3 linked regions of the Homo sapiens genome follow. The protein of the gene in region 1 binds, or shares a complex with, the protein of each later gene. Each region holds a gene or a part of one and is shown in the gene's direction. Other genes may lie near its edges.

Region 1 (7,276 bases):
ACGCTGGCTATAATCGGGGAGGCACGGCTACAGCCGCGGCGGTGCTCTATGGAGCCAGCAAGAGCTGGGAACAGGCAGAAGCCCTGCCCGCTTCCAAGTTGGAAGAGTGGGAGTCCTGCCCTCCTGAGTGCAGCTGCAGCCACCCAGTCATGGTTGTGGACCCATTCATCTCCGGACAAGTGGAGGGTAAGCAAGGCAAAGAGGTGCTTTGCTGAGCGACAGAACAGCTCAGAGGAGACCTGAGGGCAATGGGTAGCTTCTTTCTGCAGGCAAGTCATCCCAATAAGTGTCCAGCTCTTAGCAGAGAGGAGACCCACAGTGGGTAGTTCCTCTCAGCAGGCAAGTCATCCCGTCATCTTCTCAGCTCTCCACAGAGAGAAGACCCACTCTCAGGGGACCAGGAAGCTCCCTGCTCCCGCAGGCTTGGAAGTGCCTGCTCCCACTGCCTGGCCTCTCCCCGCTCCCAGCACCCGCTCTGATTTCAGAGCAAAGTTGTGACTAAGCCTGGGTGCTGTCACGACCCGACCAGGTGTGCACGTGCTTGGGGCAGCATTGACACGCAAGCCCCATGCTGCCTCAGTCCCCTCTGGACTTTGGGTGCTGATGAGCACAGGAGGGAGGCAGGCCGAGGCGGGAATAAGGACATCTCAGTGAAGGCCTGTAGGTACCACTTAGCATGAACAACCTGGGCGCCATGGGCACTGTGGATGGCAGGTTAATGGCAGCAGGATCCACACAGGCTCCTGGGCGGAAAGGGGTGGGTCCCCGGTAACGCCAGGGGTCAGGCTGCCAGTTCCATGCAACGGAGTGAGAACTTATGGTGCTTTCTCCAGGCCTGCCCATGGCTGCGCCATGGACCAATCAGCACACACTTCTTCCTCTCAGAAGCCCATAAAAACCCTGGAGTGAACCAGACTTGGGCAGACAATGAGATGACCTGCTTGCAGACAGGAGCTACCCACTGTGGGTCTATGGACACTGTGGGTCTCCTCTGTGGAGAGCTGAGCAGATGACAGGACCACCTGCCTGCTGAGAGGAACTACCCATTGTGGGTCTCCTCTCTGCTGAGAGCTGGACACTTATTGGGATGACCTGCCTGCAGAAAGAAGCTACTCATTGCCCTCAGGTCTCCTCTGAGCTGTTCTGTCACTCAACAAAGCACCTCTTTGCCTTGCTCACCCTCCACTTGTCCACATACCTCATTCTTCCTGGATGTGGGACAATAACTCGGGACCTGCCAAATGGCATGGCTGAAAGAGCTGTAACACAAACGGGCTGAAATATGCCCCTTGCTTGCCATGTTGTGGGCAACACAACAAGAGAAGAGAGAAGAAGAGAAGAAGAAAGGAAAGAGAAGGGGGAAGAGAGGAGAGAAGAGCTGTGGCCCTTTAGGAAGCCTAGACCTAGGAGCTCCCTGTGACAACCTCTTTGGGGCTCTGCAGCTCCTGGCATCTCCAAGCTTCCAGGTGCCACTGCATTCCCTGGTGCCAGCTGTGGAAGCTGCTTGCAGTACACCTGGACCAGCCACAGCCTTGCAAGGGGCCAGCCCCTAGAGCTGCCCGCCCTCCTGCAGCTGGCATGCCGGGCTGTATACAGTGGCCGGACCCCATGCTTGCTCGCTCACACACCCCTCGCTGCTCCGCACCTGGCTTGCACTTGGCAGGTGTGGGATCCAGGCCGTAGTATGAGCAGAGTGCAGCCTGCTGGGACTGGTGGGCAGAATGAGCCCGACCAAAATTCGGGCAGAGGTGCCATTTTTCCAGCTGGAAAAGTGACACTCCAAGGATCCTGTGACAATGGCTCCACTGAAAAATGATTTCGAATAACTGTAATAATAGGTAAGGTCATTGTGAACGCATGTTAATCTTCAGTAGTCTAGTTTGATTTCTTTCAAACATTGCTTCTACTTAGCAACGCAATTGAAAAATAAATCTCCAATTTATAGGGGAAAAAAAACCTCCATAGATTGGAATAAAGGCCCTCTACTGTCTAGATCTCACCTGTGTTTCTAGATCTTGTACTATTCTACATGCACCTGTTGCTCCAACCTAGCTGAACTTCACTGTTCCTCAGGAAGCCCTCAGCAATGCTGTCTTAACTTCCTTTCTTCACATTTTCAATGTCGGGAAGATCTTTTCACTAGCAGCTTCCCCTTCCTTTACCCATATCCAAATCCTACCAGTCCTTTAAGACAGTGTTTCTTAAAACTGAATAATGAACAGACTCCTAAAATAAATTCTTATGATCCTAGAGAATGTTTTCAGTAGGCTGGGGTCCACAGACCAGTTTGAAAAGCACAAATATAAAGAACTAAAGAGCAATTGTATAAAATTATGCAAATGATCAAGTTGAAAGACAAATTTCATCTTTATAACTGGTAAAATAACTCGTATTTTGCCATAGAACTCTGATTCTTATCTTCAGATCTATGATCCGTTTAAGAAACACTAAGGCAAAGCTGAAACCTTGGAAAATGTTCCTGCATCACCCCAAGGTAATACATTTTTATTTTTTCTGATTTGGTGTCTAACAACTTTCTGCCTTGGAGTAGCTAGTAATATGTAGCATTTTCCTAGAAAACATAAGCTCTTTGAAGACAGGGACCACATTTTATTTATTTTTTATATGCACCACACCTAATACACAGTACATCCTCAGCAAGTACTGGCTGTAAAGCCTATATTCCATGCTCTTATTTTGTAGTCCAAATCACTTTAAAAATCACACTTCTTCTATTGTTCATACTCATAGAAGAGCATATTACTCAAATAGCTCTGCTATAAATTAACAGTAAGTTTCAGAAGTTATACCAAGTCACGAGACTCAGATTTTTAAAAAGTGCCACAAAGTGTCTCTTCTGTGTCAATGTTAATAGAACCCTTTCTTTAAATGATCAGTAGGCAAATTAAGAATTTCCGGATAAAGAACAAACTCTGGAAAAACAAAGCTAGTGGGAGAGGCCCTGTAAATACCTACCTAGTCTTACAAGGGCTGTCTCTAACTCAGCTTGTATTTTAGGCAGCGTCTTCAGTTTTTCAACTAATGTGTTTGAGAAAACTGTTTTCCTCGGACATGCAGGCGTGGACTCCTTACTTCAGGTAAGGTGACAGCAGCTTGACAGAGAGTGCCTTCCCTCCCACGGCATTTGGGACGAGGCTGAAGGAAAGACACAGGCGGGGTTACGGGAAACCCATTCTCTGCGCCATCTGGGCAAGCTGAAGTCAGTTTTTCCGCTTTCTCACGAGGTAATGGATTATCATGGGCTCAGGTCCCCTTCAGCTCTGAAACAGGTATTCTATGGCTCTAAGTAAACACGGCAAGAGACAGGTTATTTCTTTGGTAAGATCAGTTGTATTTCCCAGAGAATAAAACGGGCAACAAACCATTTATCGATATGTGAGTCTTCCCCCTAGGCCCTAGCTATTTGGGGTTGGATAAAGAAAAAGAGGGTTTGCTTCCTTTTTGGCGGGTCCTCCAATGACAGGGCTCCTGGCCCGCTGCGGGTCCAACTCCCACCTCTCGTGGCTCCCCCGAGGCCGAGCGAGGCTCCGTGCGAGGACAGCCCCTCAACCGCACTCCCCAGAGGGAGCGCTGGGACTCGCGGAGGAGATTAGTCCCCGGTCATAAACAACCTCTCACTTCCCCTCCCCCGCCCGCGCCCGCTCGCGCCGGGGCGGCGCGCCGGGGCGGCCCTCCGAGGCCCAGGAACCTCCTCCGGCGCCCGCGAGGCCCCGAGTCCTCCTCCGGAGGGCGGCTGCGGGCCTGCCCTCTTCTCCTAACCAGGTGTTTGTCCACTTTACTCAACCCTTCTTACTCGTCCACGCTACGGCCACCTCACAGGGGCGGCTGACGCCAGCCCCTTTTTCCCTCCCCTCGACCCCTATCACCTCCAACAGCCAAGGAGAGGCCGGCGGCCCTGACGCGCAGGCTCACCGCCGCGGCCGCCCCGCGCGCGCGGACGCGGCCCCCGCCCCCACCTCGCGGTCCTTCCGCAGTCCGGCCCCGCCCCTTCCCGAAGCCCGCCTCCGGGTCGGCCCGCCCGCCCGCTCGCGCGCACCCGACGCCCCGCCTCTGCGCGTGCTCAATAACTGTCCCCGGAGCCGGCCTACAAGCTTCCCCCGCCCCTGAGCTGTTTAAATATGCTAATGAAAGGATAGGGCCTGACCAGTAGAACGGCGAGGCGGTGTATCACGTGGCTCGGGGACGTGTCAGGGGCGGAGCCTCCGCAGCCCCTGCCCGAGTTAAAACCGGAGTGTGAGAGAGAAAAGCGCTTCAGTAGCGAGAGGGGCTGAGAAAGTGGTGACACCGCCGGGGTGCGGAGGGAGTCCCTGAAACTTCTCCCAACAGCCCCAGGGCCAATCTTCCCTCAGCCCACTCCCCTCTTCGCCAGCTCCCAGGTCCCCACTCCTGTACCGGGGGTGGGGTGGGGAGCCAGGCCCGTCTCCCGCTGGGACACACACAGGGGCCGGGAGCGGGGACGGGACCCCCGAGGCGGGGGGGACGAACCGACAGACAGACGGCTGGGCGCCCGCCCCAGCGGGCAGGCAGGCAGGAGGAGGCGGAGGCGGGGGTACGACGGGGAGCACTGGGTCTGGGGAGTTTCCTCTCAACTATCGGGGGAGAAACTCCCCGCAGCCGGAGGAAAGACCCAGACAGTGTTTTCCTCCCGGGGGCCGTGCTCCCCCGCCCCGCGTAGCGGCGGTCGCCGCCACCGGCGCCTCCACCTCTACCATCTCCTCTTTCTCCACCACCTCGGGCCCCGGTGTCCCCGGCCAGCACTATGCCCATCTTACTGTTCCTGATAGACACGTCTGCCTCTATGAACCAGCGCAGCCATCTGGGCACCACCTACCTGGACACGGCCAAAGGCGCGGTAGAGACCTTCATGAAGGTACCGACTGACCGAGCCCGGGCGGCGACCCCGGCCCGGCGGCCCGCGGGCGGCAGGGTGGGGGAGGGCGGCCGGGGCGGGGGTGTCGGGGACCTGACTGCGGGAGCTGCCGGGCTCGGGGACCCCCTCCCCCACCGCGCGGGCGGGCGGGCGCTGCGAGCCGGGTTCGGCCGGGGCCCGGGCTCCGGCCCCGGGCGGTGTGTGGGGAGCGATCTGTGTGTGGGGGACGGCGTGGAGGGGTGGCCGCTGCGTGTGCGGTACTGTGGGGGCGGCGGGGCCGCTGGGCGCCCCTTCTCCGCCTCGTAACCTCGCCTCTGTGCTTCCCTGTCGCCCGCCCTGTTCCTCCTCCCGTCCCGCAGCTCCGTGCCCGGGACCCTGCCAGCAGAGGAGACAGGTATATGCTGGTCACTTTCGAAGAGCCGCCCTATGCTATCAAGGTAACAGCCCTCGCCCTCCCCCTTTCCTCCCTTCCCTTCCCTGTTCCTTCCTCGCTCGCCCTCCCCGCCCCCCCATTCACCCTTCATTATGCTCCCCTCCCCCACCCGCTGCGCTCCCAGCCGCTGAGGTCTCTTCCCTGCGGGCTCCCACCCCCTCCCCCGCTCGGCAGCGTCCTAGCGCGGCGCGGAGTCGCGGGGCCACCGCCGTCCCCTCCCGGCCCGGCCCGGCAGCGGCGGCGGCGGCGGCGGCGGCGGCGCTGCTATCAACATGGCCGACATTTCCCCTCCGCGGCGTGAGCGGCAGCAATGAACTGTGGGGGATATTTATTCAAGTTAGCCGGAGTGACAGCCGGGCCCGGCCGCGCACAGCCCCGGTTTGCATTAAAGGGGAATCGGCCCGGCCGGCCCGGAAGCCAGATGCGGGGCTGCCAGGATTGGTCTTGTCAGATTCGTCCTAAGAGGGCCGGTGGGACAGCTGCAGGTTAACTTCCTAAGTCCGGCTCCCATCTGCTTCCACTAGTACCTTCACATACCCAAATTTTGGGTATTAGATTAGGTAGTAAATTTGTCAGTGAAGTTATAAAGTATTAAGGCAGTTAACTACCAAAACCTAGAGAGGAAGCTGGGTTATTCCTGGGCCACCTTTGGAAGAGAGTTTCCTCAGCAGCGGTACAGTATTAACACGTTAACCAAGCCAAACCAACCAAAAGTGAAGCTGCTACTTGGTGAACGTCAGATTATAACGGCTCTGTGTACATGGCTTTAAAAAATGAAAAAAAAAAATCTTACATTTTTCTTTTCAGGCTGGATGGAAAGAAAACCATGCAACGTTTATGAATGAATTGAAAAACCTTCAGGCTGAAGGACTTACGACTCTTGGCCAATCCCTAAGGACAGCTTTTGATTTATTAAATTTAAATAGATTAGTAACTGGCATAGACAACTATGGGCAGGTAGGTTGAATAATAAGGTGGCAAAATAGTTGATTTTTCATTTTGTGGAAAAACACAGTCCAGTCCAAAAACTACATAACATGAAATGCAAGTATAAAACATTCCAAATTAAAATAGAATATGCACATTGTTCAAAGGCAAAACTCTTACCCTACTATATATATTTTACATCCCTCATTTTTTCCCCCTCTAAAATGCATTGGTATTCAGGATTAGAATCTGAAACTTTTGCTATAAAGTTGACATACATTGGTTTTAATCCCTTGAAAGTTCAGTAAAGACCTAAAAGGAAAAGCATCCTACCACACCACACTCATGTTGTATGTGCAACTATTATAGTGGCTTAGAGACACTAGTTCGTGTTCTTCGTTTCTATATTAGTAAAGATGTTAGAGGAAATTAATCTGTTTGTTGCATCAGGGTTTAATGTGACCATGTTGTATAACTATTCTGAAAGGTAAGAAGTTTTTCACTGGAGTACAGTCACTGGCTGAGAACATTTAAGTTTTCTTTTGAAGCATACACAGTTAACAACTATTGCAGGAAGAACTCTGAATTAAATTTCAGGCCCAGAGTTTTGATTTAAACTCCAAACCCTTGGAAAAAAAGACTGCTGGAAAATATGAAAGAACCCTTCGTTTCTTAACCCCCACAAGTCCTTTTATTGCACTTACTTTCATGTATTTGAGGATGAGAGGAGCTTTAAATCAACAATAATTCACTAAGGAATAATGCAAGGTGGTCTATTGTAACATTTTATGATATTATTGCCCTGGAAATAAAAGATACTGAACAATGTATAATGTTACATGTAACAAAGGAATATTATTTCCAAGGAGCTCAGTTCTTATGTTGTAGTGAAAAGCACTATTCCTAATTATATATTGGGTATATGTTGTATTTTCCCAAGTCCCACAGTCCCTAGTTTTGTGAGTTTCGTACATTTCAGGGAAATTCTTTCTGTGACTACAACTTTTATTTGCTTCCTATTGAAG
Region 2 (7,025 bases), on another chromosome or scaffold:
ATCAAAAAGTGGGCAAAGGACATGAACAGACACTTCTCAAAAGAAGACATTTATGCAGCCAAAAAACACATGAAAAAATGCTCACCATCACTGGCCATCAGAGAAATGCAAATGAAAACCACAATGAGATACCACCTTACACCAGTTAGAATGGCAATCATTAAAAAGTCAGGAAACAACAGGTGCTGGAGAGGATGTGGAGAAATAGGAACACTTTTACACTGTTGGTGGGACTGTAAACTAGTTCAACCATTGTGGAAGTCAGTGTGGCGATTCCTCAGGGATCTAGAACTAGAAATACCATTTGACCCAGCCATCCCATTACTGGGTATATACCCAAAGGACTATAAGTCATGCTGCTATAAAGACACATGCACACGTATGTTTATTGCGGCACTATTCACAATAGCAAAGACTTGGAACCAACCCAAATGTCCAACAATGATAGACTGGATTAAGAAAATGTGGCACATATACACCATGGAATACTATGCAGCCATAAAAAATGATGAGTTCATGTCCTTTGTAGGGACATGGACGAAATTGGAAATCATCATTCACAGTAAACTATCGCAAGAACAAAAAAACCAAACACCGCATATTCTCACTCATAGGTGGGAATTGAACAATGAGAACATATGGACACAGGAAGGGGAACATCACACTCTGGGGACTGTTGTGGGTGGGGGGAGGGGGGAGGGACAGCTTTAGGGGACATACCTAATGCTAAATGACGAGTTAATGGGTGCAGCACACCAGCATGGCACATGTATACATATGTAACTAACCTGCACATTGTGCACATGTACCCTAAAACTTAAAGTATAATAATAATAAAATTTTTAAAAAAGGAAAAAAAAAAGAAAGTCAGTTTTGCTAGATATATAGTCCTTGGCATGCATTTTCTTTCTTTGAGTATCTTAAATATGTTCTCATATTTTTTTCTAATATTAAACATTGCTATTAAAAACACTGATAAAATCTAATTTTCTTTCCTTGTAAGTCACTTGTTCTTTTCCTAGATCCCAAAGGTTTGCTTGTAGTCTAAATATTTTCCAGAATATGTCTGTTGTTCATTGTTCTGGGTCAGTATTCTCAAGTGTACACTGTGTTCTTTTAGTGTGTAGTTTCGTGTCTCTTCATTTTAGCAATTATAGTATTTAGTAATTGAATATTATGAGTGTTAATTATTATTCTCACTTGGTTTTCTGTGATGCCACATAAGATTCCCTTATGTGGCATCTTGCTTATCTGTCTTCAACATTTGTTAGGTTCTTTTGAATTGTTTAAATCTCTTCATTTCTTTTTGGTATTTTTTATTAATCTACTCTTGTGTTTCTATTACAGGTTGAGTGTCCCTTATGTGAAATACTTGGGACCAAAGTGTTTCAGACTTCAGACTTTTTCCGATTTTGGAATATTGCTGATTGAGCATCCCAAATCCAAAATCCAAAGTAATCCAGTGAGCATTTCCTTTAAGCGTCATGTTTGCCTCAAAAAGCTGCAGATTTTAGACCATTTCTGACTTCAGGTTTTCAGATTTGGGATGGTCAACATGTAGTTTAGTCTTCATTTCCAAAATGATGTTTTCTTTTATTTCTAATTCTTTATTGAGTTTTGTCACCTCATTTATAAGCTTTGCTGGTTTTTCATGTATGTACCTCTTTCACGTTTGTATAACTTTTAAATCTTTTTAGCTTATTTGAAATTCTGGTGTATTGTTGGCATGCTTTCACTCTCTATATGACATTGTATTTCTAATTTGTAACAGCTCTTTTTATTCTCTTAATCTTTTATTTTGTAGCAATCTCTTCTCATTTCTTAGCTATACTATCTTATTTTTCTAACGATAGTAAGGACAAGCTGTTCTTAAAGTTTTCTTCTACCTGCCTAATTTATTTCTTCTAATTTCCCTGCCTGCTCCTCTGCCCCCACTTGAGGCCTTTATTATTTTAGAGACTTTTCTCAAATTTATGGTAGTCCTTGGCTATTGGCTCATGTTTAAGAGTTGAACGATTAAAAAAACTAATTAGAAAGTCTATGTGCCATGGGTAGGACTTGTTCACTTCCACACTTTACCATAAAGTAATCTGATTGAGCTGTTTCTTTGTGGAATCCTCTGCGTTAGAATCTTTTCATTAATTTTTTTTCTTTGAGGCTGATCGGATTCTTCAGAGAAGATTCTTTCAGCCCCCTACCCTGAGGGGAATAAGCTTACTCATAGTGCTTTGGCAGCCAAATGAGGAGAGGAACATTGTTCCTCTGTAAATTTTTGTTTAGGAAGGCTGTCTCAGTTGATGGTTTCCCGTAGTCCAGACTTTCATTTTTACTCCCTCCAGAGAACAACCTCTGGTAGCATACCTGAGAGGAGAAGGGACATCTGCTGAGCTATATGGAAGGAATGAGGAGATCTGGAAGGTTCTAAGTATCTCGTCTCTTTTTTCAACAGTTCCTCTTGTTTTTAGGTTGATTCAACTTCCTGATACACCTGTTGTTTTCAGTTGCCATATTTTTTGTGGGTTCTGCAGTAGAAATTAAACGTTTGCATTGAACTTTCCTGGGCCTATGAAGTCAGTTATCATTTGTCTGTCTACTTTCTAAAATGCCTTGCTATTGTCTCTTCTCTCATTCTCTTTGTCTTAAGGGTGTGTGTGTGAGAGTGTGTGTGTGTGTGTGTGTGTGTGTGTGTGTGTGTGTGTGTGTGTGTGTGAGAAGCCCTGTTCAGTGTTGTTTCAGGAGAGAGAGGAGAGGCTAATGGCATGCATTCATTTCACCCCAGTACTTGGACCTGTATTGTACAGTGAATGTCAGGGAAGTTACTCTTCAGGTCTCCTGATTCTTTTGGAGCAAATGATAAAACGTTTTTCTGTTGACACATTTTGGGCGACATAGCAAGACCATGTCTCTATTTTTTTTTTTTTTTTAAAAAAAGAAATGGCTGAGCACGGTGGCTCATGCCTGTAATCCCAGCACTTTGGGAGGCCGAGTTGGGCCTATCACAAGGTCAGGAGATTGAGACCATCATGGCCAACATGGTGAAACCCCATCTCTACTAAAAATACAAAAATTAGCCGGGCATGGTGGTGGGCGCCTGTAATCCCAGCTACTTAGGAGGCTGAGGCAGGAGATTCGCTTGAACCCGGGAGGTGGAGGTTGCAGTGAGCCGAGATGGCGCCATAGCACTCCAGCCTGGTGACACAGTGAGACTCTGTCTCAAAAAAAGTAAAAATAAAAACAGAGAAATGGTCATAAAGGAATCCTATGAACAATTATATGCCAGTAAATTAAACCATTTGGATCAAATGGACAAATTACTAGAAAGGAATGCTGTAGAACATGAAGAAATGTTCACCTGGTAGTTGACATTGTGATCCATTTGCAGGCTGTTACCTTCTCCTCTCAAGGATGCAGTGGAAGTCTCAACCTGGAGAAGATGCTATACAATGCAAGAGGTGAACTCTGCCCTTAGTAAAATCCAGCTGGTGGGATATTCTCAGAAAATTGTGAGTATTCATATTACATTTCAGTTATTCATGAATGCTTTCCATTCATATTGTTGTTTGTTGTTTGGAAGAATCCTATAGTTACGTTTTTAAAGCCATTCCATTGCTGAGGATCCAGAGCCTCTGTTCTTTCCTCCGTTCCGCGCAGGATTTTATTGGTGCTCTTTCCCCACCCTCACATCTCCATCACCAGCCAGCATTCGATTGGCCAGCGTGCAGGGAGTCCGGAGAAAGGCGTCTCATCCTGTTCACATTAGATTTTATAGATTTTGGATGGGTGAAACGGGAAGAGAGAAGAGTTTGTCAAGTGTGACTTTTGAGCTCTGACCTAAATGATAAGCCTTCCCATTTCTTACTGTCATCCTGTGCCCAGAGCTACTCAGTACCGAACAACAAGGGCCTAACACCTAACTGAAAATGAAAAAGGAAAGCCAAAGTGTGTGAGTCTTTGGTCTGTTTGGTAATATTTCATCTCTCCCTTTTAATGTGTGAACCTTGAGTGCCTGGGGACATGGAAGAGAGCTGAAGCTCTCAGGTGACAAGTAAATATTATAGGATTGCTTTCTTTGTCTGCCAGTTGATCTCCATCATCTTTCTGTTTTCCTTAAAACTTTCTAGTTTACTTTATTGATTGATTGACTGAGACAAGGTCCCACTTTGTTACTCAGGCTGGAGCGCAGTGGTACAAACATGGCTCACTGCAGCCTCAACTTCCCGGGCTCCAGTGATCCTCCTGCCCCAAGTAGCTGCTTGAGGACTACAGGCATGTGCCACCATGCCCAGCTAATTTTTGTATTTTTTTGTAGAGACAGGGTTTCACCATGTTGCCCAGGCTGGTCTTGAACTCCTGGCCTCAGCCTCCCAAAGTGCTGGGATTACAGGCGTGAGCCATTGCACCCAGTCTCTGGTTTACTTTAAAATAATTTTTGTTTTTAAACTGAGGATATTTCTGTTGTTTTTCCCTGCAGAATTACCTCATGTGACTGTCACTGTAAGCTCATTGCACATTCTTACTGTGGTTCTCTTTTAGGAGCTTTTTGGTGCGGTCCAGGTGACTCCTCTGAGCTCTGGCTATGCCCTTGGGAGCTCCAACTGGATCATCCAGTCTCATTACGAGAAAGTGTCTTATGTCTCTGGATCCTCCTTGCTTACCACACACCCCCAGGTAATTCCAAATTCTCTTCTAGCAACTCAGCTTTTTGGTTACTTAAGTCAAATTCAGAATGTATCCAAGGAACCATCAGCCATTTTTAAATCTTCCAAATATGGTTTTCTACAGATACTCTCTAGCCAAGGTAGACTATTTGAGTCTCAACATTTTGACCTACAGGTTTCTCTGAAATAGTCCTGCTACCTTGAGGGTCACTCCTAGGATTCTGAAATCCCCCAGGCCTTCCAAAGACCATAGCCTGATGTGGGACACAGATGGTTATGCATTTACTCAGCAAATATTAACTGTTTAAAATCCTTCCCAAGGGCCAAGTGTCAAGTGTCATGCACACATCTGGGTATTGGGGATTCAGTGGTGACCAACGGGCAAAGCATGTGCCCGTAGATCTTATGTTGTAGGGGAGTTGATGATGTTGGGGAGAGGATGGTGTATAGTAGGTAAACAAATAAAGTGCCTGGTCATTTCCGATTGAGATACAAGTACTGAAAACAGTAAAGCAGGGTGATTTTCAGAATGATGGCCATTGGTTTAGATTGGGTGCCCAGGAAAGCCAATGGGAAGATCTCACTTGAACTGAGACCTGGAGAGATAAACCATGTCGGCTGGGCGCGGTGGCTCATACCTGTAATCCCATCATTTTGGGAGGCCGAAATGGGATAACTGCTTGAGCCTAGGAGTTCAGGACCGGCCTGGGCAATATGGCAAAACTCTGTCTCTACAAAAAATACAAAAATTACCCGGGTGTGGTGGCACACGCTGTGGTCCCAGCTACTCAGGAAGCTAAGGCAGAAGGATCGCTTGAGCCTGGGAAGCGGAGGTTGCAGTCAGCCGAGATTGCGCCACCGTACTCCAGTGCGGGTAACAGAGTGAGATTATGCCTCAAGAAAAAAAAAAAAAGGCCGGGTATGGTGGCTCATGCCTGTAATCCCAGCACTTTGGGAAGCCAAGGCGAGTGGATCACTTTAGGTCAGGAGTTCAAGACCAACCTGGCCAACATGGTGAAACCCCATCTCTACTAAAAATACAAAAATTAGGTGTGATGGTGTGCACCTATAATCCCAGCTACTTGGGAGGCTGAGGCGGGAGAATCACTTGAACTCGGGAGACAGAGGTTGCAGTGAGCTGAGATCATGCTGCTGTACCCAGCCTGGGTGACAGAGTGAGACTCCATCTCAACAAAAAAAAAAAAAAAGAGAGAGAAAGAAAAAAGAAAAACAGAGAAATTAGCCACGTAAAGCCGTGAGTGTTTGTATTACAAAGGGATGGCCAGTGAAGGGCCCCTAAAGTAAGAATAAGCTGGGCATGTTTGAAGGGCAGAGAAGGCTATTGTGGTCACAGCGTGGAGGTCAGCAGTGAGGTCCAAGAGAGTGGCAGACACCATGTCATGTAGTGTTAGCAGGCTGTGAGGAGGAATTTTGGTTTTATTTTAATATGGAGAGGGAAACTATTGGAACGTTTTAAGTTATTCATTCCAGTCATATTTGGCAAGAAGCCTAGCACATATAAACATTGTTATGAATGTGATACTTACTCCTTTTTGGTATTTGTAAATAATTTACTGTTCATTTCCTGAATGTTGGTTATTTCTATGTTTGTAATAGGGAGTGGGGGGACATTAGTTAGCTGTTGAATGGGTATATAGATACATTAGGTAACTTGTGGAAGTCCATATTACATTTGTTTATCTACATCTATTTACGGAGAGAGAGAGAGAGAGAGAAGGTCTTGTTCTGTCACCCGGACTGGAGTACAGTGGTGTAGTCATAGCTCACTGTAATCTCAAACTCCTGGGCTCAAGCAGTCCTCCCAAGTAGCTAGGACTATAGCCACCACACCTGGCCTATTTATTTTTTAACATAACCTCAAATTTTTATTGTCTTCATAATAAAACCAAAAATGAAGCTAAGAACTGGATCACTTGGCCTTTTCTCCTTTTATCCCTTCCCAGTTAAAAATACTTGTATCTCTAGTAGCCAGCATTCTCCTAGATCTGCAGTTGGGCCCAACACTTAAGCTTTAGCACAATCTCGTTTGTAGTTTTAGCCTTTTTCCAGAAGATTGGCTTGGTCTGCCTACATAGCCACCCCTTCCTGCCATTAAGCCACTTTCCCTTGGCATACAGATCATCTTTTCCCTTCTTGTACCATGTCACTCTGTGGGGTTGGTGCCAACCATGCTTCTTACACAAAGTCCAGTGGGTTTGAAGAACATTCACCATGTTAGAGCACTATCAGTAAAGAAAGAAAGAAATTATTCATTTTTTAATTACAAATAAAAATTGTATATATTTATGGTATGCATGATGTCTTGATATGTGCATGCATTATGGAATGGCTAAGTCAATAATTAAC
Region 3 (7,025 bases), on another chromosome or scaffold:
TCAGAGGCACTCCACACTTTTCCAAGAGGGTATTGCAAAATCTGCACCATTCTTTTAAAAGGCAAAATGGTGACTTTCTGCCTGAAAACAGCCTGAAGTCCCTTGTGGTCCTCTGAGTCCACGCTTCAAAGATGTTTCTCTCCTTAGACACTAGTGTGGCATCAGAGGTCCACCAAAGGTGGATGTCTCTGCAAATACTTTCCAAATTACTTGTTGCAGGAAGCTGATTAATGCTATTTTAACAGTTAAATCTGAAAAAATAGAACCAGTGTCTTTAAATCTGTGTTGTGATTATCTCAGGTAATAGACTTGGCATTTGTACTATGAGTCTGTTGGGCACAAAATGTTCAATTGCCTGAACCCAATAAGGAATGGATTTTTCTGGCTTTTAGCCTTAACACCCAACTTTAAAAAAAAAAATGTTTACAGCATGAGCAACTAGGTGACACTCTGCTTGAAAGCAGGAGCCTAGAGGGACAGACAGCATACCACATGGTGCATGCAGCAGTTTTCAACCTGTGGTGTTGGGTTTCAATCAGGCTGGTGGGAAAAATATTAGAGATAGTTATAGAAATAGACACAAATCTTCTTGGAAGGCTGAGAAGTTTGCCTAACTTCAGTAATAGATCTGGCTGAAGGCGGCCTGATCTCTTTACCTTTAAACAAATTAAAATAGTAATAAAGAAAGGCAGAGTAGTTTACCTGGCTAGCTTGTTTACTCATATAAAGACTAACCTTTGATGTACCGTGAGTGCTTAAGTGCCTTTTACTCAGAAGTCCACAATGTCAATTTCCCTCTAATGGTGTTGACTCAAGCTTTTGTTAATTAATCTTACTGAATAAATGCGAGTCTGACTAGCTGATCAGGGCCTAGTTGCAACTGTTTACAGGACTCAGCAGGAGCCTGTAAGCGGCTGGGACCCTCAGCTGGACTGGCAGAGCAGAATATCTGTGTGTCAGCATACTTTATTTATCCGTTGCTGAATCGGGTCTGCAAGAACAGACCTCCCGCAGCTAGTGCCCCCGTGAAAGGAGCGCTGCCTCACTGTGGTGACTTACGAGGCCACTGAGACGGGAGTAGACTGAGGAAGGGATAGTAGACCAAGCAGGAATGGTTCTGGTTCACCTGAAGTTAAAAGTGTTCTTATGATACTTTCAGTTTTCTTCTATTAGACTGGGTAATCTTTAAAATATCTTTGAACGCTTAAATTCTGATTTTATGACCACTTTCATTAAGGCTCAAAATATTCTCTGTGGTGTTTCTGTACCTCTGCAGTCATGCTGGGATTTTCAAAACTCAGTTAAATGTGTGAGGCAGATTTGAGAAATAAGATATTTTATTAGAGTTTCAGGATTCCCCGACTATATAGTCCTCTTTCATCTGAATTCGACCAAGTTTCCACCACTGCTTACTCTGAGGACCAATGGCCATAGAGACAAGCCACCTAATGAAAGAATGAGCCAGCTCAAAGCCAAAGTCCTGCAAAATGCTCGGGCTTCTTTACCATACTGTTTATCATACTTTGCCATGTGATAGTTACTCTATATTTTAGTATCTAATATAATTGTTTAATAATATACTGATAGTTCTGAGCGCTGTAGAAATGTGGAATTTGCCTATTGCTTGGCCTCGAGGACTGTGGATTTTCTCATTTCTGTCACTTATATTTTATTGAATATACTTCACAATAAAGTAAAAATCTGTAATGAATGATTTAGTATGTATGCACAGTTCCTGGATGTGATGCCTAGTTCTTGATTGGTATGTACCTTTGTAATAATCTATATGGGCATTTGTAGTTTTATACTGAATGTACCACTTGTTGATGAAATTTGAAAATTTATTTTTATTTGATTTAGTTTCTTTTTTCCCCCAGCACACAGCATGCCTCTGCAATGCCATCATTGCTTTGCTGAAAGTTCCCCTTTCTTTCCAGAGATATTTTTTCCAGAAACTACAGTCTACCAGCATCAAGGTAATACAGGAAGAATACTAAGGTTAATATAGGTTTTAAAACCAGGTGTCTTCTGAAGATTATGTAGGACATAGCTACACTTCAGTGTGTTACCTTTGGTTTATTGGTTTTTTTGTTTTGTTTTGTTTTTTGAGACAGAGTCTCGCCCTGTCGCCTGGGCTGGAGTACAGTGGTGTGATTTTGGCTCACCGCAACCTCCGGGTTCAAGCGATTCTCCTGCCTCAGCCTCCCAAGGAACTGGGATTACAGGCATCCACCACCTCACGCAGCTGATTTTTTTATTTTTGGTAAAGATGGGGTTTCACCATGTTGGCTAGGCTGGTCAGGAACTCCTGACCTCAAGTGATCCACCCACCTCTGCCTCCCAAAGTGCTGGGATTACAGGCATGAGCCACTGTGCCTGGCTTACCTTTGGTTTTGATAAAACCTAGTTGTAAGCCATTTCTCTCCTTTATCAAGTGGTTTGGTGAAAGAAATGAATTTGGGAGTTAAACTCTCTCCCTTTTTAATTGTCAGTGCCAAATTCTATGAGACAGGCATTTGGGTAACTGGAGCTCTGTTGTTTGTCTCTCACCTCCAGGAATAAATTAGTGATTTATCACAGTAGCCTGCAAGGATCTTGAGCTGAGTCTATTCAGACCCAACTTATAGACCCAACTTAGAATGAATCAGATCCAGTAAACTGTCACCAGTTCTTCTTCCAAAGTACTTCTGCCTTTCAGTAACATGTTTTGAGGGGCTAACCAGTGAGTAGAATTAGTATTTTGAAATATTTAAGCCACTCACAATTCAAAAGCTATTTTTGATTCAGAAAATGAAATTGTTGGAAAAGGGAGAAAATTGTCACTTCTAAGAGATCTCCTGGATTATCCCTGTTAGTTAATGTCTTCAGTAAACTTTTACATCCATGCAAATGTTTTGATTACAAATAACAGAGCATTCCATTTCAAAATGACTGGAATAATGAGGAAGATTTGACGATCTAGATAAGAAGTCCTAAAGTAGGATGTCTCCAGGGTTGATCAGTAGTTCAACAACATTATCAAAAAGACTCAAATTTCTTCCATCTTTTCATTTAGCAAGACTTGGGCTTTCTTTAATTGATGTGTTTGGGATTTTTAATACATTTTTGAAGAAAAACTAATGAGAGGTGAAAAATGTCATTTGATTCATTTGTAGATATTGACTTTTTTTATAGCACAGTGACTTCGTTGTGTAGATAATCCTGGAACTTTAAGTTCATTTACATTTGAATTTAGTTTATTTAAAATTACGTAAGACCAAAGAGACAGCTCTTAGGTAATGAAAATTTATATAATGCCTTTCCCTACTAGAAGTGGTTCATTGTCAAAGAAATGCCTCACCACAAAAATTGGGAGAATAGTGCCTTTGCTTTTTTCTAATTCTCTATTATCCTCAAATAGAACTGAGGTTTGGGATGAAAACCACAGTGATGTTTAGAAGGAGGCACTTTAAAGGTACATCTGTCTCGTTGTCCTGGCACAGTCAGGTCCTGTGGGGGTGGGGGAGTGCACAATCGAATTTGTTAACCTGTAACCAGTGATTAGCACAGACATGTTTGTCGGAAGGAAGCTTGCTCTTGGTTGTTGGCATTTATTTGAGTGTTGGCATTCCAGCTTGCTCTGTCACCATCGCCCCGGAATCCTGCAGAGCCCATTGCTGTCCAGAATAACCAGCAGCTGGCGCTAAAGGTAGAGGGAGTGGTTCAGCACGGATCTAAACCAGGACTCTTCCGCAAAATTCAGTCTGTCTGTCTGAATGTTTCTTCCACACTGCAGAGTAAATCTGGACAAGACTACAAGGTAATTTAGAAAAGAGGCAGAATTGTGATACAGGTTTTATATGAGCTCATTGATGGAAGTTTTCCAGTGTTTTTCATGGTTAAATAGATTGCAGTTATACCTCCAAAGGGATCAGATGGACATAAATTAAAAGCCCACATTGGGGCTGTAAGGGGTTGATAAACACTTCTTTTTCTCTCCCTGAACCAGTTGATAGAGACAAAGCATCCAGGCAAAGATCAAAATATGAGTTTTATTACTGTTGGAGCTGTGGGAAAACCTAACTCCAATGCCTGGCAGCAAGGCCTTTCTAACCGTAGACCCCTGAATTGGATTTTTTCACCCAGCCTCAGTCAGTACGTATGGGAGCCTGCCCCTATAAAATTTATGGCAGGGCACAGAGGACTCAGGTGCCCAAAGCAGAAGAGAAAGAGCAAGTGCTTACCTTCCCATGTCTGGTTCCTGCCCAGAAAGTCACCCATCAGCAAGACTCACCTCCTCCCTGCTAGGTCAGTAATATTAATCTAACGAAAGGTCTCTCTTACATCAGGAGGTCCCTTCAAACGTCAGAAGTTGGAAAATAAGTGTCTCCCTAACCCACCCAATCCCTCCCCACAAAAAATACACATCTATTTAGTTTTCTCCATTTTAAGTAAATTTTATCATTAAAAAAAGTATATAGCATTTCTATAAAATGATCAGATAAAGTAAAATCTTTTTTTAAGAGTGTAACCCTAGGGATTTGCTGCCTTGGGAACTCAGGATATAGGTAAGTAATAACCTGAATTAGGCTACATTGTTAGCCAGAGCTAAGATGCTGAATCTGTGCCCATGAAATGCCAGTGTTCGAGATAAAGAATGTTCCTTGCTTTAGACATTTATTTCCGATTCCCTGGTGGTTTATCCACAGTAAATGAAGCAAGGGACCAAGTCCACAGTTGTAGCAGCGAAGTTACTCAGATGCCCAGATTGGCTGTGTCCAGGTTTATTGTGGCATAGCATGGAAGGCAGGGTATCAGTGAAGGTATAAAAAGAGAGCATTTTATTATCTTTGGTGGTTTTAGGTTAAAAAGCCAAGGGAAGGTCTGGTTCTAAACTATTATTACTTTCTTAAGCCATTACTACTTTCTTAACTATGGCAAGTTCCTCTCACTTTGGCACTCTGTCCACTCTGACACGGCTGAGCCTTCATTCTCCTCTTTTCCTCTGTTTTGACTTCTGTGCCATACAGCATGGTACCTTATGTAGCCACTCAATAATTTGTGAATGATGAAAAAATTATTTACTATATTTAGAGTATAACTGTTAAAATTGGGTATCTGCTGTCACAGAAGGTTGTAATGAGAATTTACATAATTTATCCCTGTCTGCAACTCTCTCTTCACTTTGAATTTGAAACAGTAGTAACCATGATTCTCTTTGTTACTTGCATATAATTTCTACTGTTAAGAAAATAACATTCAAACCTAGAAGCTATGGTCTTCTGCTTGTTGACCTACCTCTCAAGAGGCATTGATTAAAGTCAGGAAGCTGATATAATAAGCCGAGTAATAACATGATTACTTTGCAGTGTTATTCACAGTGAGTTTGCAGCTTAAGATGCAGCCATCCATTCAGGGTGATCAGGTTCCCTAGGCCTATTTCTGGTCCTTTTAAGGAAGTTCTTTGGTTGGCATATTCTTTAGGGAAATAAAAACTGTACAAAGGCTAAATGTGAAAAAGTACCTGTACTATAAATAATTCTAAGACCTTGAATTGGTTGGTGACGTCAGTTCATTACTATTACAGGTAAATGTCTCTGGAAAAGTGACATGATAACTGCTCCTTGAGACACAAAGCTGCAGGGCACATTTATATAATTAATTACACCACAGAAACACGCACATAAACCTAGAGTAATTTGGTCAAATACACATTAAGATCACCTTTATTTGCATTCTCAGGATAAATCTGTCTCTTGACACGTTTCATCTTGGGTACAGGTAAGAGTACGTCAGCAGGTTTTATTCTGGTCTTTGAAGAACAAAGGCATGAGTGTCTGGCTAAATGAATGAGCCTATAAATCTGTGTTTTATAACATATTGTACTTCCAGTCTGAACAAAACAGTGCTTATTAAATGAGCAATGTACAAATGGTTCAGTTAATTTGTTAAAGGAGTAAGGAATCACTACATTAAGTAATAAAAATCAGACTAACTGTTGGGGGGGAACCTAACTTAAATTTGCTTAGTGTTTTGTTCTTTTTCAGTCTCTTAGGTTTTAAACTCTCTGGAACAGGTGATTTCATCCTATTTCTTCAGAATATCTCTTCACAGTCTAAAGGAAGATAGGGATTTAGAGATGGGGTTGAGTAAGCAAGGAAGAAAGGCCAGCATGTGAAGGGGCTGTCAACGGCTCTGGGAGCTCATTCTACTCAAGTAGAGTGAGGAGCATCACTTAGTAGTTCAGAGTGTAGGCCCTGGAGGTAGTCTGCCTGTGTTCAGATTCCTACTCCGTTCACTAATCATGTGACTTTGGAGACATTACTTAACCTGTCTGCCTTAGACTCCTCATCGGTGAAGCAAGGATGATAGCAGTACCTAATTTTTTATTGTCTGCATGGTCTAAATAAGCTCTTAGAACAGGGCCTAACTCATAGTAAGCACTGAAGAAATGTTAGCCATTGTTGTTAGTTAACAATTGTTTCATTGCAGATACCCATTGACAACATGACCAATGAGATGGAGCAAAGGGTTGAACCTCATAATGATTACTTCAGTACTCAATTTCTGTTGAACTTTGCTATCCTTGGAACACACAACATTACAGTGGAATCTTCTGTGAAAGATGCCAATGGTATAGTATGGAAGACTGGTCCCAGAACTACCATATTTGTAAAATCCCTGGAAGACCCTTATTCCCAGCAAATTCGCTTACAACAGCAGCAAGCCCAGCAGCCATTACAGCAGCAGCAGCAACGCAATGCCTACACACGGTTTTAACCATGGAATGAATGCACTGCAGACTCTCAAGAGATCAATCAAATTGCCAGAAACAGTTTGGTTTTTCATATGGAATAAGTATTAAAGTTACAGTGTAGTTCATTTATTCATTGATTTTTGTAATGTAATATTCTGGAAAAAATTTTGTTTTCTTAAAAATTTTGTCTGACAGCTGGGCGTGGTTGCTCACGCCTGTAATCCCAGCACTTTGGGAGGCTGAGGTGGGCGGCTCACGAGGAGATCAAGACCATCCTGGCTAACACAGT

The links. Proteins that work in one complex are often made in the same cells at the same time.
Region 2: INTS6 (region 1) and INTS9 share a complex: the UniProt entries of both Homo sapiens proteins name them as parts of the integrator complex.
Region 3: INTS6 (region 1) and INTS7 share a complex: the UniProt entries of both Homo sapiens proteins name them as parts of the integrator complex.

Annotation. Positions count from the first base shown.
Region 1 is NC_000013.11:51,450,030-51,457,305, reverse strand, and holds the start of INTS6 (integrator complex subunit 6), read left to right. Parts: upstream 1-4,269; 5' UTR 4,270-4,780; coding exon 4,781-4,891; intron 4,892-5,250; coding exon 5,251-5,328; intron 5,329-6,131; coding exon 6,132-6,281; coding exon of another isoform or gene 6,282-6,290; exon of another isoform or gene 6,291-7,276. UniProt on the Homo sapiens protein: Component of the integrator complex, a multiprotein complex that terminates RNA polymerase II (Pol II) transcription in the promoter-proximal region of genes.
Region 2 is NC_000008.11:28,809,970-28,816,994, reverse strand, and holds part of INTS9 (integrator complex subunit 9), read left to right. Parts: intron 1-3,382; coding exon 3,383-3,503; intron 3,504-4,533; coding exon 4,534-4,668; intron 4,669-7,025. UniProt on the Homo sapiens protein: Component of the integrator complex, a multiprotein complex that terminates RNA polymerase II (Pol II) transcription in the promoter-proximal region of genes.
Region 3 is NC_000001.11:211,941,558-211,948,582, reverse strand, and holds part of INTS7 (integrator complex subunit 7), read left to right. Parts: intron 1-1,877; coding exon 1,878-1,976; intron 1,977-3,613; coding exon 3,614-3,799; intron 3,800-6,471; coding exon 6,472-6,759; 3' UTR 6,760-7,025. UniProt on the Homo sapiens protein: Component of the integrator complex, a multiprotein complex that terminates RNA polymerase II (Pol II) transcription in the promoter-proximal region of genes.